5 linked regions of the Homo sapiens genome follow. The protein of the gene in region 1 purifies or fractionates together with the protein of each later gene. This does not show direct contact. Each region holds a gene or a part of one and is shown on either strand. Other genes may lie near its edges.

Evidence for each region.
Region 2: the proteins of TRIM69 (region 1) and NUP133 purify together in Homo sapiens (affinity purification with mass spectrometry, with the first as the bait; one large-scale study listed by BioGRID). This does not show direct contact.
Region 3: the proteins of TRIM69 (region 1) and NUP205 purify together in Homo sapiens (affinity purification with mass spectrometry, with the first as the bait; one large-scale study listed by BioGRID). This does not show direct contact.
Region 4: the proteins of TRIM69 (region 1) and POU2F2 purify together in Homo sapiens (affinity purification with mass spectrometry, with the first as the bait; one large-scale study listed by BioGRID). This does not show direct contact.
Region 5: the proteins of TRIM69 (region 1) and RRM1 purify together in Homo sapiens (affinity purification with mass spectrometry; 2 studies listed by BioGRID and IntAct, with this or other methods). This does not show direct contact.

The regions. Positions count from the first base shown.
Region 1 is NC_000015.10:44,743,013-44,746,532, forward strand, and holds part of TRIM69 (E3 ubiquitin-protein ligase TRIM69), read left to right. Parts: intron 1-3,520.
Region 2 is NC_000001.11:229,466,834-229,470,353, forward strand, and holds part of NUP133 (nuclear pore complex protein Nup133), read right to left. Parts: intron 1-3,520. UniProt on the Homo sapiens protein: Involved in poly(A)+ RNA transport. Involved in nephrogenesis.
Region 3 is NC_000007.14:135,578,409-135,581,928, forward strand, and holds part of NUP205 (nuclear pore complex protein Nup205), read left to right. Parts: intron 1-342; coding exon 343-507; exon of another isoform or gene 508-518; intron 519-3,520. UniProt on the Homo sapiens protein: Plays a role in the nuclear pore complex (NPC) assembly and/or maintenance. May anchor NUP62 and other nucleoporins, but not NUP153 and TPR, to the NPC.
Region 4 is NC_000019.10:42,118,934-42,122,453, reverse strand, and holds part of POU2F2 (POU domain, class 2, transcription factor 2), read left to right. Parts: intron 1-75; coding exon 76-110; intron 111-271; coding exon 272-328; intron 329-3,520. UniProt on the Homo sapiens protein: Transcription factor that specifically binds to the octamer motif (5'-ATTTGCAT-3'). Regulates IL6 expression in B cells with POU2AF1. Regulates transcription in a number of tissues in addition to activating immunoglobulin gene expression.
Region 5 is NC_000011.10:4,129,291-4,132,810, forward strand, and holds part of RRM1 (ribonucleoside-diphosphate reductase large subunit), read left to right. Parts: intron 1-2,995; coding exon 2,996-3,131; intron 3,132-3,520. UniProt on the Homo sapiens protein: Provides the precursors necessary for DNA synthesis. Catalyzes the biosynthesis of deoxyribonucleotides from the corresponding ribonucleotides.

The sequences.
Region 1 (3,520 bases):
CCTAAGCCAAAAGAACAAAGCTAGAGGCATCATGCTACCTGACTTCAAACTATACTACAAGGCTACAGTAACCAAAACAGCATGGTACTGGTACCAAAACAGAGATAGAGATCAATGGAACAGAACAGAGCCCTCAGAAATAATGCCGCATATCTACAACTATCTAACCTTTGGAAACCTGAGAAAAACAAGCAATGGGGAAAGGATTCCCTATTTCATAAATGGTGCTGGGAAAACTGGCTAGCCATATGTAGAAAGCTGGAACTGGATCCCTTCCCTACACCTTATACAAAAATTAATTCAAGACTGATTAAAGACTTAAACATTAGACCTAAAACCATAAAAACCCTAGAAGAAAACCTAGGCATTACCATTCAGGACATAGGCATGGGCAAGGACTTCATGTCTAAAACACCAAAAGCAAGGGCAACAAAAGCCAAAATTGACAAATGCGATCTAATTAAACTAAAGAGCTTCTGCACAGCAAAAGAAACTACCATCAGAGTGAACAGGCAATCTACAAAATGGGAGAAAATTTTCGCAACCTACTCATCTGACAAAGGGCTAATATCCAGAATCTACAATGAACTCAAACAAATTTACAAGAAAAAAACAACCCCATCAAAAAGTGGGCAAAGGACATGAACAGACACTTCTCAGAAGACATTTATGCAGCCAAAATCACATGAAAAAATTCTCACCATCACTGGCCATCAGAGAAATGCAAATCAAAACCACAATGAGATACCATCTCACACCAGTTAGAATGGCATCATTGAAAAGTCAGGAAACAACAGGTGCTACAGAGGATGTGGATAAATAGGAACACTTTTACACTGTTGGTGGGACTGTAAACTAGTTCAACCATTGTGGAAGTCAGTGTGGTGATTCCTCAGGGATCTAGAACTAGAAATACCATTTGACCCAGCAATCCCATTACAGGGTATATACCCAAAGGACTATAAATCATGCTGCTATAAAGACACATGCACATGTATGTTTATTGTGGCACTATTCACAATAACAAAGACTTGGAACCAACCCAAATGTCCAACAATGATAGACTGGATTACGAAAATGTGGCACATATACACCATGGAATACTATGCAGCCATAAAAAATGATGAGTTCATGTCCTTTTTAGGGACATGGATGAAATTGGAAATCATCATTCTCAGTAAACTATTGCAAGGACAAAAAACCAAACACTGCATGTTCTCACTCATAGGTGGGAATTGAACACTGAGAACACATGGACACAGGAAGGGGAACATCACACTCTGGGGACTGTTGTGGGGTGGGGGGAGGGGGGAGGGATAGCATTAGGAGATATACCTAATGCTAAATGATGAGTTAATGGGTGCAGCACACCAACATGGCACATGTATACATATGTAACTAACCTGCACATTGTGCACATGTACCCTAAAACTTAAAGTATAATAATAATAAAAAAAATGGTGGAGTAGAGAAGTCCCAAAGTCCATCCCTCCACAAAAACTGGCAAAAATTTTGAAGATCGAGTTTTTTAAAACTTGAAACTAATCAAAAGCTTACAGCAACCAGGGAAATATTTAATAATAATTAAATAAAACCTTGAATCTCTGTAAAATAACTTTTTAACACTTTAACTTACTCAGGTTTTCCTCATTTCCCATCTTGGTGGTGGTTTTAAAGACAGCTGACATTCCAACTACAGGTACATAGTACAAGTGGGAGCAGCATGGACCTTATTCCCAAAGAACTGTGGCTTTGACCTGTCTGGTGCTTCCATGAAGTATTACATAAAAGGCTTGCCATTAGTTTGTTTAACTCAGAACTTTTTCACAGATGAGATGGCTACCCTGGAGGTATAGTTTGGAAACATTTAAAAGCAAATGTTTTTATTGCTGCCACCTGGGGAAAGGCATAATAGTTGGGGCAAACAATAGAGTAACCAAAAAGCTGAGAAAGAAAGGCTGGGGAAAGAGTTATTTTGGGGAATACCCTTTGAAAAGTACCCACATATTCCTGGTAATCTAGAAGGCCAACTGCATGCCCAGGACTGAGTGCATACTAAAAAAAAAAAAAAAACCTGAGAAAGACCCCAAGTTTTCTTCTCGGAGTGACTTTTAGGATCTGTGTAAGCAGGAACTGAGGACTAAGGAAGTTGTAAACTGTGTGTTGAAGGCATGCTCAACATATACGAAGCCCATTTACAAAGACTGGGAGGTTTTTGTTGTTGTTGTTGTTTGATTTGGGTTGATTCTAGGCATTTAAGGAAATCTCTGTTGAACTATTAGATGACTACTAAGTTCATGGGACAGAATTCAGTAGCTACATGTGACGAAGAATACAGACTTTACAAAATTTGTTTAGAAAAGTCACTAACTAAACAAAACAACTACAACAAGAAGTAACAAAAAACCCCAGAGAAGGTGGAAGATTCTGATTTCCAGAGATTTCACATTATACTTGTCAAAGTATCGGATATTCAACAAGTATAAATAAATAAGAACATATGGCCCATGGACAGGAGAAAAGGAAATTAATAGAAACTATTCCTGAGGAAGCTCAGACATTGGACTCACTAGACAAAGATTTTATATCAATTATTTTAAATATTCTCAAATAGCTAAAGGAAACAATTTGCAAATAAGGAAACCATGAGACTGATGTCTCACCAAATAGTGAATACCAGCAAAGATGTAGAAGTTATAAAAAGGAACCAAAGAGAAATTATGGTGTTGAAAAGCATAATAACTGAAATGAGAAATTCGCAAGAAGTGTTCAAATCAGATTTGAGCAGGCAAAAGAAAGAATTCATGAAACTGAAAATAGGTCAATTGAGATTATGCTGAAGATCAGGGAAAAAAAAGAATGAATAAAAATGAGCAGAGCCTCAGAAACCTGTGGGACTGTTATGCATAGTTGGAGTCCCAGAAGAGAGGAGAGAAGGGGACAGAAAGAATGCTTAAGGAAATAATGGTTTAAAACTTTTGAAATTTGACAAAAGGCATAAAGCTATACATCAAAGAAGCTCAACAAACTCTATGTAAGTTAACAGAGAGCCACACCAAGTTATAATTAAACTATTAAAAGCCAAAAATAATCTTAAAAGTAGCAAGAGTGAAGTGACTTATGTACAAGAGAGCCTCAATAAGTTAACAGCTAATTTTTCATCAGAAATCATGGAAGCCAGAGAGCAATGGGATGACATCTTCAAAGTAATTGAATAATCCACAAAGAATTTTGTATCTGGCCAAACTATCTTTCCAATATGAAGAAGAATTTAAGACATTCTCAGACAGACAAAAACTGAGCTTATCTCTAGTAGATCTTACCTACAAAAAATGACAAAGGGACTTCTTCAAGCTGAAATGAAGGGACATTAGACAATAACTTGAACCCAGACAAAGACATAAAAAAAGCACTCATCAAAGAACTACCTATTTTTGGTTTGTAACTCTTCTTTTTTTTCTAAAGTTTTAAAAGATAATAGCATAAACCAATAATTGTATATAAAAAAAGAAATCAATCT
Region 2 (3,520 bases), on another chromosome or scaffold:
CATTAAGCCATATCCTCAGACCTATAGATGGAGGAAAATTTATTGGCAGTTGATGGTAAAAATAAATTCAAAAATCAAGAAAAGTCACATCTCCTAACTTTTAAAAGTCAGAGTGCCCAAATAAGTCTTATAAACAGGCAAATTCTGGATTGTTACTGAGATTTTTAAGCGATGATATTTTTTATTATAGCTACTCTGCTCAGTGCATCTTTAAATAGCACTAGGTTACAGATGACATCACTTTACAATGTAATACCCCAAACTAATGAACTAATAGACTAAAATAATGACCTCAAAAAGTGAACTTGCTAATTTCTTTCTTTGAGGAATTCCCCTTCTTCAGACATAACAGAAACATTTGTAGAACAGAAGTAAGCAACATAAGAGAATGAACTAAATACATAACTTCTAACTCTTCCTTTGTCATTAATTAATACATGGAGATAACAGTGCAAAAATACCATCAGGCACTGAAACTCCTGTTTCAAGTTCAAGTCTGCACTTAAGCTTTCCCCCCATTATTTAGAGTTTGCATAGCAATGGACACTCAGAGATAAGAGGAAAGAAAAATCAGATTAGCTGCCCTCAAGGACCTCACAAACTGGCTGAAGGAACAAGTTATATAGGCACAGATAAAACATGACCCAAACAAAATCCCTCCCTTTTGCAAACCTTGTTCTTCCTTTTGCATTTCTGATGTTAGCCAAAGGCATCCTAACAGCCCAGGCAAGAAATCTTTAGCACATTTAATTTATAAGCTTAAGTGTAAGAATATTTTACATTGTTAACATGAAAAACACAATGAAAGCCTATATAATGGCCGGGTGCGGTGGCTCATGCCTGCAATCCCAGCACTTTGGAGGTGGGTGGATCACAAGGTCAAGAGATCAAGACCATCCTGGAAAACATGGTGAAACCCTGTCTCCACTAAAAATACAAAAATTAGCTGGGCGTCGTGGCGTGCACCTGGAGTCCCGGCTACTTGGGAGGCTGAGGCAGGAGAATTGCTTGAACCAAGGAGGCCGAGGCTGCGGTGAGCAGAGATTGTGTCACTGCACTCCAGCCTGGCGACAGAGCAAGACTCAGTCTCAAAAAAAAAAAAAAAGGAAAGCATATATAATATAAAAGACAGAAAATAACATAAAAGCACATAAAATGCCAAAACACTTGTTAAATTCTCTTATCATGTATATATTCAGTGATTTCAAATATTGCTCATATGCCGTGTCAACATAGTCTGTTCCTTAAGCAGTGAGCTCTGCTTTTCCAGAGCCCTGGGAGGTACAAGGCCTTCCCAAACTGGAGACAGAGTCAAAGTGGAGAGCGCACCCTCAGGCAGCTCTGTATTGTTTTACTTTCTATCAGGGCTGCCAAGTCAAAATATCGTTCTATATGGCCCACCAATCAGAGATTGATTTTGGTTAACCAGCTCGTCCCAAAACACAAATACTCCTTAGACAGGTAACTTGTCACCCCCAAGTGGAAGGACAGGTAAAAAGAAAGAAAAACTACTATATGCATATAGCTATTGTATTCTCTTTTCATGATCATTATGACACGGGAGAAAACCTTTATAACTACACCCCAGAGAAGCTAAAGACCAACGAACATCATGAGAAATGAAGATAAATAGTGACAGGAACAGTCCTAAACATTACCATTTTTCATATGGAACATTCTTTTGAGGAGCCAATCACATTTTTAGTTTTGCTGTATCATATTCCTAAAATATTATTCTATATGTATCCAACTGATAATTTCCAGACCCTTCTCCAATAATTCAGCTAACTGAAACATGTACATACACTAAATTGACACTTATACTTTGCCCTTTGATCCAAATGCAGAATAATGAACCAGGCTCTTGCTCAGTTCTTACAAGTAGTCTGTAATTAATTTTAAAAAATTGTCTTATCATATAAAATTATATATGAATAAAGACCAAAAAGGACACAAAAATGACAACAACTTGATTTGTTAGATCATGAAACTTGAGGTGATTTGTTTTTCTTTCAGATTTCTGGCATACTGTCTAGATTAAAAACAAAACATAACAAAGTGCTTTTCCTTCCATTCCCCAGGAACTAACCCAAATGCATAAAAGCAAAGAATTCACACTAAACACATTTATGGAATCAACAGGAAGACTGAATTTAGGTTATAGTACATCAAACTTAGGTTACAGTACATCAAACATTAAGAAAAAGAGACTTGTCGGCACAGTGTGCTACATGTTAGAATACAGCTAGGCTATAGGAGGAAGGAAGCAAAATTTGAGACACCAAATAGAGTTTGAAGTTCCTCAAATGCATAAGGAATTCCAAATTTCACAGAGCTCAGGGAAGAGCTGGCCCTGTTTCTAAAACCAGATAGTTCTGCAGTCTCAGTTAAGACAACAGGTCTAAGTTCTAATGTCACACCTTTAAAGGGAGACAGCGAAGTCTGCCTTGCTGCCTCATCAGGCTGTGAAGCTTCACAAAAGCACGAGGACTGCGTCACTATTTCCACAATGTCCAGCTGCCACTGGCTGCCCAGCATCTTAACCATTTCTGTCTTTGAAGTTTGTAGCAGACTTTACTTTTTCTCTGAAAATAAATCTGATTCTACAAGCAAGGTGTAGCAACAGGATCCTAGGAGGTAGCTGAGGAGTTCAGTGAAGGTACTGTTTGCAAAGGTGTGGGCAAGATTAAGGGGTCCAAAAAGGGATGGGGCAGCACCCTAGGATGAGGCATTATCAACCTCAGGCCTGAAGAGGCACAAGGAGGGGGCAGCTACTGGAAACACAGAGAAAGCAGTTGGACAGGAGGCACAGTCCCTGACAGAGGGGCACAGCCAATGTAAAGTGCGCACAGGCAAGGAAGAAAGCTGGCAGAATAACTACTCCAACTTCTGGCCTTATGGCAGGGCCTCACATTCATCTGACCTGGCAGAAGCCGGAGGGCAAGGGAGCCCATTCAGGAAGGCCACCTTGCTGTGGCAGAGTCAAGAGTAGATCTGCCTGGCCAACAAGGGTGAAACCAGGTCTCTACTAAAAATACAAAAATTAGCTGGGCATGGTGGCACATGCCTGTAGTCCCAGCTACTTGGGAGGCTGAGGCAGGAGAATTGCTTGAAGCCAGGAGGCAGAGGTTGCAGTGAGCCGACATTGCACTGTTGCACTCCAGCCTGGCAACAGAGCAAGACTTAGTGCCCCCTGCCCCCAGAAAAAAGAGTAGATCGAGAGAGACAAAGGAGAAGATCAGGATGGATGCAGTAGCTCACGCCTGTAATCCCAGCACTTTGGGAGGCTGAGGCGAGTGGATCACCTGAGGTCAGGAGTTCGACATCAAACCCCATCTCTACTAAAAATATGAAAATTAGCCGGGGTGGTGGCTAGCACCTGTAATCCCAGCTACTCGGGAGGCTGAGGTAGGAGAATCACTGGAACCCGGGCAACAGAGTGAGACTCCATCTCAAAAAAAAAAAAAAAGAAGATCAGCATGCAAAGCAAATAGGTACTTGGAGACAGTTATTGGGGGAA
Region 3 (3,520 bases), on another chromosome or scaffold:
AATAAAATTTTTGTGATCTTTAGATAGCATGATTTCTATTTTAGAATTTATGTGCAGAAAAAATGAGTGTCTAACTTTTTTCTTGTTTATTTGTAGTACACTTATAAAAATGACTGAAAATAGTGAAATTGAAATTTAGGATTATTGTCATTTTCTTTTTTTGTTTTTAGTATGTGTACAATCAACAGTAGTGTACCTTTTGGGATGTAGAAATTAATGTTAATTGGTCATTATTCTTCTGTGAGAATGCTCAGATTTTCTGACTTTTGGATATTATTCCTGTGTATCAGAAGTGAGAATTTATCTGGTGATCGGTAAAGTGGTCTATTTTTGTGTTTTCAGATATGATTCATCAACTTCCACTGTTGACAGAAAAACAGTACATTGCAACAATTCACTCTCGTCTTCAGGACTCACAGCTTTGGAAACTGCCTGGGCTCCAAGCCACTGTTAGACTTGCCTGGGCGCTGGCATTGAGGGGAATATCCCAGCTACCTGATGTGACAGGTGAATTGATTGTAGGTAATTTTGTTATGAGAAACAGCATGTTAGCACTTAATGACATTTTTGGAAGGAGTATTATCTTTGACATACATAAGCATAAGCATAGGAAGATATCCAGAGTTGTATTAAATGAAACCTTTAGTGTAGTAGTGAAATACAGACTTTTTTCTCCTTGTCTCTCAAAAATATCATATGAAATACTATTTCCCATTCTTGGAGCCACTGACAATGCTCTTTTACCTTCAGGGTATGAGTTTAAAATTTGGAATGACAGTGTCACATTAATTTTTTTTTTTTTTGAGATGGAGTTTTGCTCTTGTTGCCCAGGCTGGAGTGCAATGGCACAGTCTCGGCTCACTGCAACCTCTGCCCCCCGGGTTCAAGCGATTCTCCTGCCTCAGCCTCCCAAGTAGCTGGGATTACAGGCATGCGCCACCACACCTGGCTAATTGTGTATTTTTAGTAGAAATGGGGTTTCTCCATGTTGGTCAGGCTGGTCTTGAACTCCCGACCTCAGGTGATCCGACTGCCTTGGCCTCCCAAAGTGCTGGGATTGCAACACGTGAGCCACCCCGTCCGGCCTTAAATGTTTTTTAAAATTAAAATATACTATTCCTTTTATTTTTATATATTTTACTTCTTGATTTGTTCACAAACTAGTTTTTCACATTGTGTCAAATTAAAAACAGTTATTTTTCCATACAGTGTATTAAAAAGGAGATATTTGGATCAGTCAAGAACAGATGTGGAATCCCGACTTTTCTTTTTTGTGGCCCAGGCTGGAGTGCAGTGGCTCGATCCCGGCTCACTGCAACCTCCACCTACTGGGTTCAAGTGATTCTCCTGCCTCAGCTTCTTAAGTAATTGGACTACAGGCACACGCCACCACACCCGGCTAATCTTTTGTATTTTTAGTAGAAACAGGGTTTCACCATGTTGGCTGGGCTGGTCTCGAACTCCTGAGCTCAGGTGATCCACTTGCTTTGGCCTCCCAGAGTGTTGGGTTTACAGGTGTGAGCCACCGCGCCTGACCAGAATACTGACTTTTAACAACCTGTTAACTCACTGTAGCATATATTATTCTGCTATTTACATTTACATTATTTAATTGTCATATTAGTAGGGGTTTATTCTAACAGAATGAGAACCATACATGGAACACGAAGCCCAAAGAATTGTCTTTTTATGGTAAATCTAGAAAGGCTTTATTCAAGTTTACAATTTATGTCAGTTTTCTAATCCTAAAGTATCAACAGATTCTAGTATCTTATCAATCGTGTAATTCCAGAACATTTTGTTTTCACTAGTGTCATGCTGTTCCCAAGGTGTTTGCAGAAAGCTTTTTTTGTGTTAGGAGTCTTTCTTTGGCCAGTTAATTTCTATCTGTCTGTCATCTATATATCTAAATGCTGATAGCGAATTAGACTTTTACATTCCCGTACAAATTCTGTTTCTCACCTGTACGTACCCTCATCATTTATAAGTCTTATTTCACTACTTTTCTGACATAAAGTTACCCTTTAACCTTTGAAGTGGCTATGTGATAGTTAATATCTTCTTTTTTTATTTTGGAGATGGAGTCTCGTTCTGTTGCCCAGACTGGAATGCAGTGGCATGATCTCAGGTCACTGCAACCTCTGCCTCCTGGGTTCAAGCAATTCTGCCTCAGCCTCCGGAGTACCTGGGACTATAGTCGCACGCCGCCACACCCAGCTAAGTTTTTGTATTTTAGTAGAGACAGGGTTTCACCGGGTTGCCTAGGCTGGTCTCGAACTCCGGAGCTCAGGCAATCTGCCTGCCTTGGCCTCCCAAAGTGCTGGGATTACAGGCGCGAGCCACCATGCCCAGGTGTGATAGTTAATATATTAACTATATAATATAGTTATACATAGATAGTTATTATAATATTATGTAATATGGTCACAATCTTATGCTATAATTGCCCATACCACTGCACTAGTTTTGAAAGGTTTAATAGAATATGCTATAGTTTGCTGTAGAATAATAGTAAAAATAGGTTAGGAATCACAGCCCTAGTTTCAAGTCCCAGATCTTTGGCTACTTAATCTCTTTGATTTTATATGCTCATATCCTTTTATAAGCTTTAATAGTTAGGGGTATTATAATTAGAATTTTTAAACTATAAAAATTTTTCTGTTAATTTGCATTTTAAAAATTGTTAGAAAAAATGACTAGCTTGTGTTATTTTGCAGAAATGGTCACTTCTTGAAATAATCCAGACAAGTTTTAACGAAGATCTCCAATTTGAAAAATTGGTTTCTGTTCTCTTCATAGACTTCTGAAACTTTTATCAAATGTTTTTATTATATTATTCTATAAAAGGCATGAAGCCAGGTGCAGTGCCTCATGCCTATAATCCCAGCATTTTGGGAGGCCAAGGTGGGAGGATTGCTTGAGCCCAGGAGTTCATGACAAACCTGGGCAATGTAGTGATACCTCATCTCTTCAAAAAATTAAAAATTAGCCCAGTGTGGTGACATGCCCTTGGCTGTAGTCCCAGCTACGCAGGAGGCTGAGGCAGGAGGATCACTTGAGCCCAGGAGAGAGGCTGTAGTGAGCTGAAATTGCTCCACTGCACTCCAGCCTGGGTGACAGAGTGAGATCACATCTCAAAAAAAATTAAAAAAACAAGCATCGGCCGGGTGTGGTGACTCACGCCTGTAATCCCAGCACTTTGGGAGGATGAGGCAGGTGGATCGCTTGAGGTCAGGAGTTCAAGACCAGACTGGCGAACGTGGTAAAAGCCCATCTCCACTAAAAACACAAAAAATTAGCCAAGCATGGTGGCGCGTGCCTGTAATCCCAGCTGCTTGGGAGACTGAGGCAGGAGAATTGCTTGAACCTAGTGGGCAGAGGTTGCAGTGAGCTGAGATCATGCCACTGCACTTTAGCCTGGGTGACAGAGTGAAACTCTGTTTCCAAAAAAAAAAAATCAACAAAAAAACCAAGCATTTTTGTAATTTCACTAAGCTTTACAGAATTTTAGCATACTGTT
Region 4 (3,520 bases), on another chromosome or scaffold:
ATGGGAAGAGAGCTGGGAGGGGACAGGTGTGGTGGGGGTGGCTGATGACAACACATCCTTTCCCTCTCTTTGCAGACACCGAAAGAAATGGACCAGACACTAATCATCAGGTTAGGAGGGAGTGGATAAGCGGGAGGGGGTGGGAAGGAATGGGGAGAGGGGTTCAGAGGGGGCTCTGTGCCGCCTATGGTAGGAGGGCAGGGAGCGGGGGTGGTCAGAAGCTGCTTCACTGCACTATTCCCATCCCCTTGCTCCTACTTTCTCTTTGCAGAACCCCCAAAATAAGACCTCCCCATTCTCCGTGTCCCCAACTGGCCCCAGTACAAAGGTAAGCACCTGTCAGAACAGCCAGGGAAGTGGGCAGCGCTTGGAAGAGGGTCCTCAGGAGGCCTGCCTCAGTCCAAGGGCTGAGAGAGCACTGAGCCTTGGTACCTTGGTAACGAGGTTCCTCCCGCCCCTTCTCACTCTTGGGCTCCCACCCCAGGCCTGTGACTCACGCAGGCTCCTTCCCCTTCCCTAGGGGGTGGGGGTGGCTAGGGAAATCCCCCCCAGAGCCCCAGGGCGATGAACAACAGGAAGCCAAAGGCCCGCCCCCATCCCAACTTCCCTGACCCAACAGAGGCCTGCACCACCGCCTGTCCCCCAATATACACATTTAGCGGCCAGCTGAGGTGGGGGTGGGGGGGCTGGTACCAGTTGAGGATAGCTGTAGGAATGCAGGAGAGAATGACAGGGAGGCCGGAAGCAGCCAGGCAGTGCAAATTCCACATCCAGATGGGGCCCTGTGCCTGGCATTCTGGGCTTCTTGGGGTTGCCTGGGCTCCAGTCTCCACCCTCCAGCCTGGTCCAGGGGTAGCAGGCAGGTCCAGAGGCTTGAAGGTAGCACTGGAGGTGGGGGCAGAGAAGGTGTGAGCAGGACTCCAGACCCTGACCAGTGGTGGCTGAGGGATGGGGTGGGAGGCTGGGAACTGCTCCCCACCCTGCTACAGCTTTGCTCTGTGACCATGGGAAAGTCACTTCCCCTCTCTGGGCCTCTCAGTTTCCTCTTCAGTATCATTGGTCAGGGGGGAGGGGGCAGTCGGATGGGATGGCCTCTGTGGTTGCCTCCATGTCTGGTGTACCCCCATGCTACCATGAGAGGAGAGGATAAAAGTGCTTTGTGAGCAGATGTCCTGCTTCTGTGCTGAGCGCTTTGAACGGGGTCTAGGGGAGACAGGCTCTCGATCTTGACCTCCTTGACCCTCTGATGGCAGGTTTGGCTATTGCCTTAGCCCTCAGAGCACAGCGTGTATCCATTGCCCCCACCCTGTCCTCAGTTGAATCAGATCTTTGCAGTCTGTTCTCAAACTGGCAGCAGGCTTCCTTCTTTTGGGGATGCCAGTGGGACCAAGGGAATGAAGGTTTCTCCCTCCCCTTCCTGGCCTCGGGCTCTGTCCACAACTCGCCCTGTACGCCCTGTTTCTCTGGGCTTTGCCTCTCAACTTCTCTCCATCTCTTCTGTGTCAGTCTTTCCCTAACTGAAGTGATTCATGTGCTTCTGTCACAGTCTCAGGCATAAGACCACTGTGCGCAACTATTTACATAATAATTTTGTTAATTGGCTCAATTTTTTAAAAAAGCACCTTATTATGGAAAATGTGAAGTGGATACAGAAATAGAGAGAAGGTTATAATGAAAATAAAGCCCCTAGATACCCATCAATCAGCTTCAACAATTACCAACTCATGAACTGGCTTGCTTTTCGACAGCTTTTTAAATAAATGTTTTTTAAATGGAAATTTCACAAATGGAAAACCAGAATCACTTGCCATGGAAATAAATATGATGATTATTAAAATTTACCCAGAGTCTCTTGTGTGCCGAAGGGTCTAAACCTCAGAGGCCTGTTAAAAAAGAGGCTTATTAAAAAGAGGCTTATTAAAAAAGGAGATTAGGGCTGGGCGCGGTGGCTCATGCCTGTATTCCCAACAGTTTGGGAGACAAAGCGGGCAGATCACCTGAGGTCAGGAGCTTGAGACCAGCCTGGCCAACACGGTGAAACTTCGACTCTACTAAAAATACAAAAATTAGCCGGGCATGGTGGTGAGTGCCTGTAATCCCAGCTACTTGGGAGGCTGAGGCATTGTGGAGAATTGCTTGTGCCCAGGAGGTAGAGGTTGCAGTGAGCCGAGATTGCACCACTGCACTCCAGCCTGGGCAACAGAGAAAGACTCCAGCTCAAAAAAAAAAAAAAAAGGAGATTAGGCCAGATGCAGTGGCTCAAGCCTGTAGTTCTAACACTTTGGGAGGCCAAGGTGGGTAGATCGCTTGAGCCCGGGAGTTCAAGACCAGCCTGGGCAACATAGTGAGACCCTGTCTCTACAGAAAATACAAAAATTAGCTGGGTGTGCATGCCTGTAGTCTCAGCTACTTGAGACAGAGGCAGGAGGATCGCTTGAGTCTGGGAAGTTGAGGCTGCAGTGAGTCCTGATGGTGCCACTGCACTCCAGCTTGGGTGACAGAGCAAGACCCTGTCTCAAAAAAAAAATTAAAATAAAAGTGGAGATTAGCTAGTATTGGAGAGATGGTAAAGACATTCAAGCACCAATCAGAGACTTTAAGATAACCAGAAACAATGAAAAAAGCACTGAAAAGGGAATAGTGTGCTCACCATGGCATTCAACATTATTTTTTTAAAACTTTTTTTTTTTGAGACGGAGTCTCGCACTGTCACCCGGGCTGGAGTGCAATGGCATGATCTCGGCTCATTGCAACCTCCACCTCCTGGGTTCAAGCGATTTTTGAGGCGGAGTCTCGCTCTGTCGCCCAGGCTGGAGTGCGATGGCACCATCTTGGCTCACTGCACCTCCACCTCCCGGCTTCAGGTGATTCTCTTGCCTTAGCCTCCCAATTAGCTGGGATTACAGGTGTGTGCCACCATGCCTGGCTAATTTTTGTATTTTTAGTAGAGATGGGGTTTCACCATGTTGGCCAGGCTGGTCTCGAACTCCAGACCTCAAGTGATCCTCCCACCTTGGCTCCCAAAGTGCTGGGATTAAGGGGCGAGCCACCGCGCTCAGCCTATTTTTAAAAAAACTTTGTATTAAAATATGATACACATTAAAAACACACATAGATCTTCAATGTATGACTCTGTGAACTTTCAGAAACTTAGCACACCCATGTCACTAGCACCAGATCAAGAAGCAGAGCACGACCAGCCTTCCAGAGGCCCTTAATGCCCCTGCCAGGGATAGCTGCTACCCTGACTTCTCATACTCAGTGTCATTTCATGCTGCATCTCTGCAGCACTTTTTTTTTTTTAACCTCTCTCTCTCTCTTTTTTTTTTAAGAGACGGTGTCTTGCTCTGTTGCCCAGGCTAGTCTCAAACTCCTGGCCTCAAGCAATCCTCCTGCCTCAGCCTCCCAAAATGCTGCGATTACAGGCATGAACCACCACACTTGGCCTCTGTAGCTCTTAAACTTTCTAATACTTATATTCCATAATTTGGGACATGCCATTCACTGTCTATTATTTGGC
Region 5 (3,520 bases), on another chromosome or scaffold:
TATTTTGGGAAAAAACTTCGTAAGATAATATATATAGTAACCTGGAAGTTGCTTGGCACAATGAAAGCATTTCAGTACCTGGTAGGAATTACTATTATTAGTTGATCTTATTTTAGGGACTTAACACACCTAGATTAGGTAATTTTCTTTCTCATTAAGGCTTTTTTCCAACTATGATTTTTTTTTTTAAATGTTTTTCATTCTTATTTATTTCCCAATTTAGTTACATCGGGCATATAAATGGCTTTTGTTTGAATTGATTGTCATAGGAATAATGGATTTTGGAAGAGTTTTTGGAGGGTAATGTGTTTAGACTATATGAAAAAAAAATTTTTAAATTGAGTTTTTGTAGGCCTTTCAAACTAATAAGCATAAGGGATTCGAAGGCAGACAGAATGTTTTGCAGAGTGAATAACAAAGCAAATTGTTTTTGTTTTCTATCGTGATGACTTTGTCATTTATGGGTTAATGCATATGCAAAGTGATTAATATTTGGAGAATGAAGCAGTAGCTTTAAAATGCTCTTTAAAAAAAATAACCGTTTGCCTTAAAATTGTTAAATTAAAATTGTTTTCCTACTCAAATAATACATGTTAGAAAATTTAGGAAAACATAGATTTGGAAAGAGAAAATGAAAATTATACTAATACTGCCTCCCCCAGAAAACCTGTGTGCATCTTAGTGTCTGTCATCCTTTAGGTTTTCTTCCAAGAGTACACATACATGTGTATTTACATGGAAATTCAACTTTTAAGAAAATGGACCTGTACTGTATTTATATATATATATATATATATTTTTTTTTTTTTTTTTTCCCCTCAAAATACTATGGCTTAGTTTTTTATATACATGACTTTTTTTCTAATTTCAAAATTAGTATATGAACACAAATTTATTATTAATAAAGCTCAAATACAGAAATAAAATAGAAAGTAAAAGCCCTTCTTCATACTTCTGCCAACCATTTGTCTCAGAAAACAAACCAAAAAAGTAACTTATTCTTTTTCCCAGAGATAAGACTTGTTAATGGTGTGTATTTTTCTAGATCTTTTTCAGTACATTTGCAGATAGGTACACATACACGGTTTTGTCATATAAATGTGATCAAACTTGATGTATTCTGGGCTGGGCACCATGACTCACGTCTGTAATCCCAGCACTTTGAGAGGCTGAGGTGGGTGGATCACTTGAGGTCAGGAGTTCAAGACCAGCTTGGGCAACATGGCGAAACTTAGTCTCTACTAAAAATACAAAAATTAGCTGGGCGTGGTGGTGCATGCCTGTAATCCCAGCTACTTGGGAGGCTGAGACATGAGAATCACTTGAACCTAGGAGGTGGAGATTACAGGGAGCCGAGATCATGCCACTGTACTCCAGCCTAGGTAACTGTGACTCTGTCTCAAAAAAAAGACTTGATGTATTCTGAGACTTGTTATTTAGTGATTTATTTTGGAGCTCTTTCTCTTTTAGTACCTGTAGGTCTACCTAATGTTTTTAATTATTATAGACAATTCCATAGTTTGAATATATCATATATGTAGGACTTTTCACAACATTTACCTGTCTGTAGACAGATGATGTTGCTATTTTACAGATGAGGAAGTAAAGACATGAAGATAGTTGGTGGTTTGCTTGATACCTCACTACAAAGTGACAGAGTAAGGTGGAGAACCACCCCCCAAAAAAAGTAAATAAAAAAATAATAATAACTAAAAAGTAGAGAACCCAGTTGTATTAGTCGATTCTCACACAGTTATAAAGAACTGCCTGAGACTGGGTAATTTAAAAAGGAAAGAGGTTTAATTGACTCACAGTTCCGCAGGGTTGGGGAGGCCTCAGGAAACTTACAATCATAGCAGAAGGGGAGGCAAACAGGTCCTTCTTTAATACGGCGGCAAGCAAAGTGCTGAGTAAAGGGAGAAAAGCCCCTTATAAAACCAGATCTTGTGAGAACTCACTATCTCATGAGAACAGCATGAGGGTAACCTCCTCTGTGATTAAATTACCTCCCGCCAGGTCCCTCCCGTAACGTGGGGATTATGGGAACTACAGTTCAAGATGAGATTTGGGTGGGGACACAGCCAAACTATATCCAGTTGTACAGACTCCGTCAGGATATGAGGCTGTATGCTAAGCACTGTATGAATCCATAGGTATAGAATGTAGGAAAGACAGGCTCTTTGTGTTTTAAAAACTTGAGACTAAGAAAACAAGTAGTTAAGGTATACGGAAAGGTACAGGTCAGAGAAAATGTTTGCAGAGTAGATATTTGTATTTGACATTTGTATTTGTGCCTGCCTGATGAGGAAAGATGTTTTAAAATTGCTATCAATTAGGCTGAGCTTTGAAGGTGAGCCAGGGGCAGTTGGGAGATTTCTCAGTGTGTCAGATAGTGTATTTTCTCTTATTAGTCAAAAGATGTTAACCTTCTTGCAGGAACTTATAATTGAAGAATATACTTTGAGCATAATTTCTTCCTCTTTACAGGATAATGGAGAATTGTGGTGATATTTCTCTGATTCTGAACACTTTCTCATCATTATTTTTCCAGAAGGGGCCTAGCACAATGATTTTATAGGCACTTGGAAAAGAGTGAGGGTTGGATGAGTGTAACCTAATACAGGTGGGGAGCGCTTCAACAGTGATTTGAATATTTCCCTACGCAAGATAGTGTATCAAGTGTTATGATTCCTGAGTGCCACAGTCCAAGTGGCATAAATCATGGTATGATAAGGATAGCCAACAATAAAAATTGTACTAATTCAGTTTAGGAGTCAGGCATTTAAGAGGAGAGTGGGCTATAATAGCACCCATACTGTGGAATTGCCTCCCTGTAGGAGTTTAATTTGAAAGTCAACGTGTGAGTTCAATGCATGTACGATGTTACATTTACATTTACTACATTTATCTACATTTACTACAGTGACTTAAAGTAGCTGCTTTCCTGGCAGATTGTAGCTTTGGGACTAGTACCTGATAATCTCCTTTTCTTTAGGTATGGTATAAGAAACAGTTTACTTATTGCCCCGATGCCTACAGCTTCCACTGCTCAGATCCTGGGGAATAATGAGTCCATTGAACCTTACACCAGCAACATCTATACTCGCAGAGTCTTGTCAGGAGAATTTCAGGTGAGCAGTTCACAACCAGCCTTACAGGGAGATCTTTCAAAAGCCTGATGTTGGGAGTAAATGCTCACTCATGTTTAATTTGCCCATTTTCTTAGTTTGGGTGCAAACTTTGATAAAGACAGTCATCTTCATCTCTAATATTATTATTTGTTATTAATATTTCAGCACAATAGGCATTTAATAAATAATCTGTTGAAAGAATGAGTGAATGAGGGTCGAGTATGAAAGTAAGTTGTTGATAGTTAAACATGATGTTTAACCATTATGTAATCATAGTGATATATTCTATAACTTCTCCCAGATGCTTAAGTTAGGATACTCAAAATGTATAAAGAAGTATCATTTAAGGCAGTGGTTCTCAGACTTGGTTACCAATTAGAATTTATGGT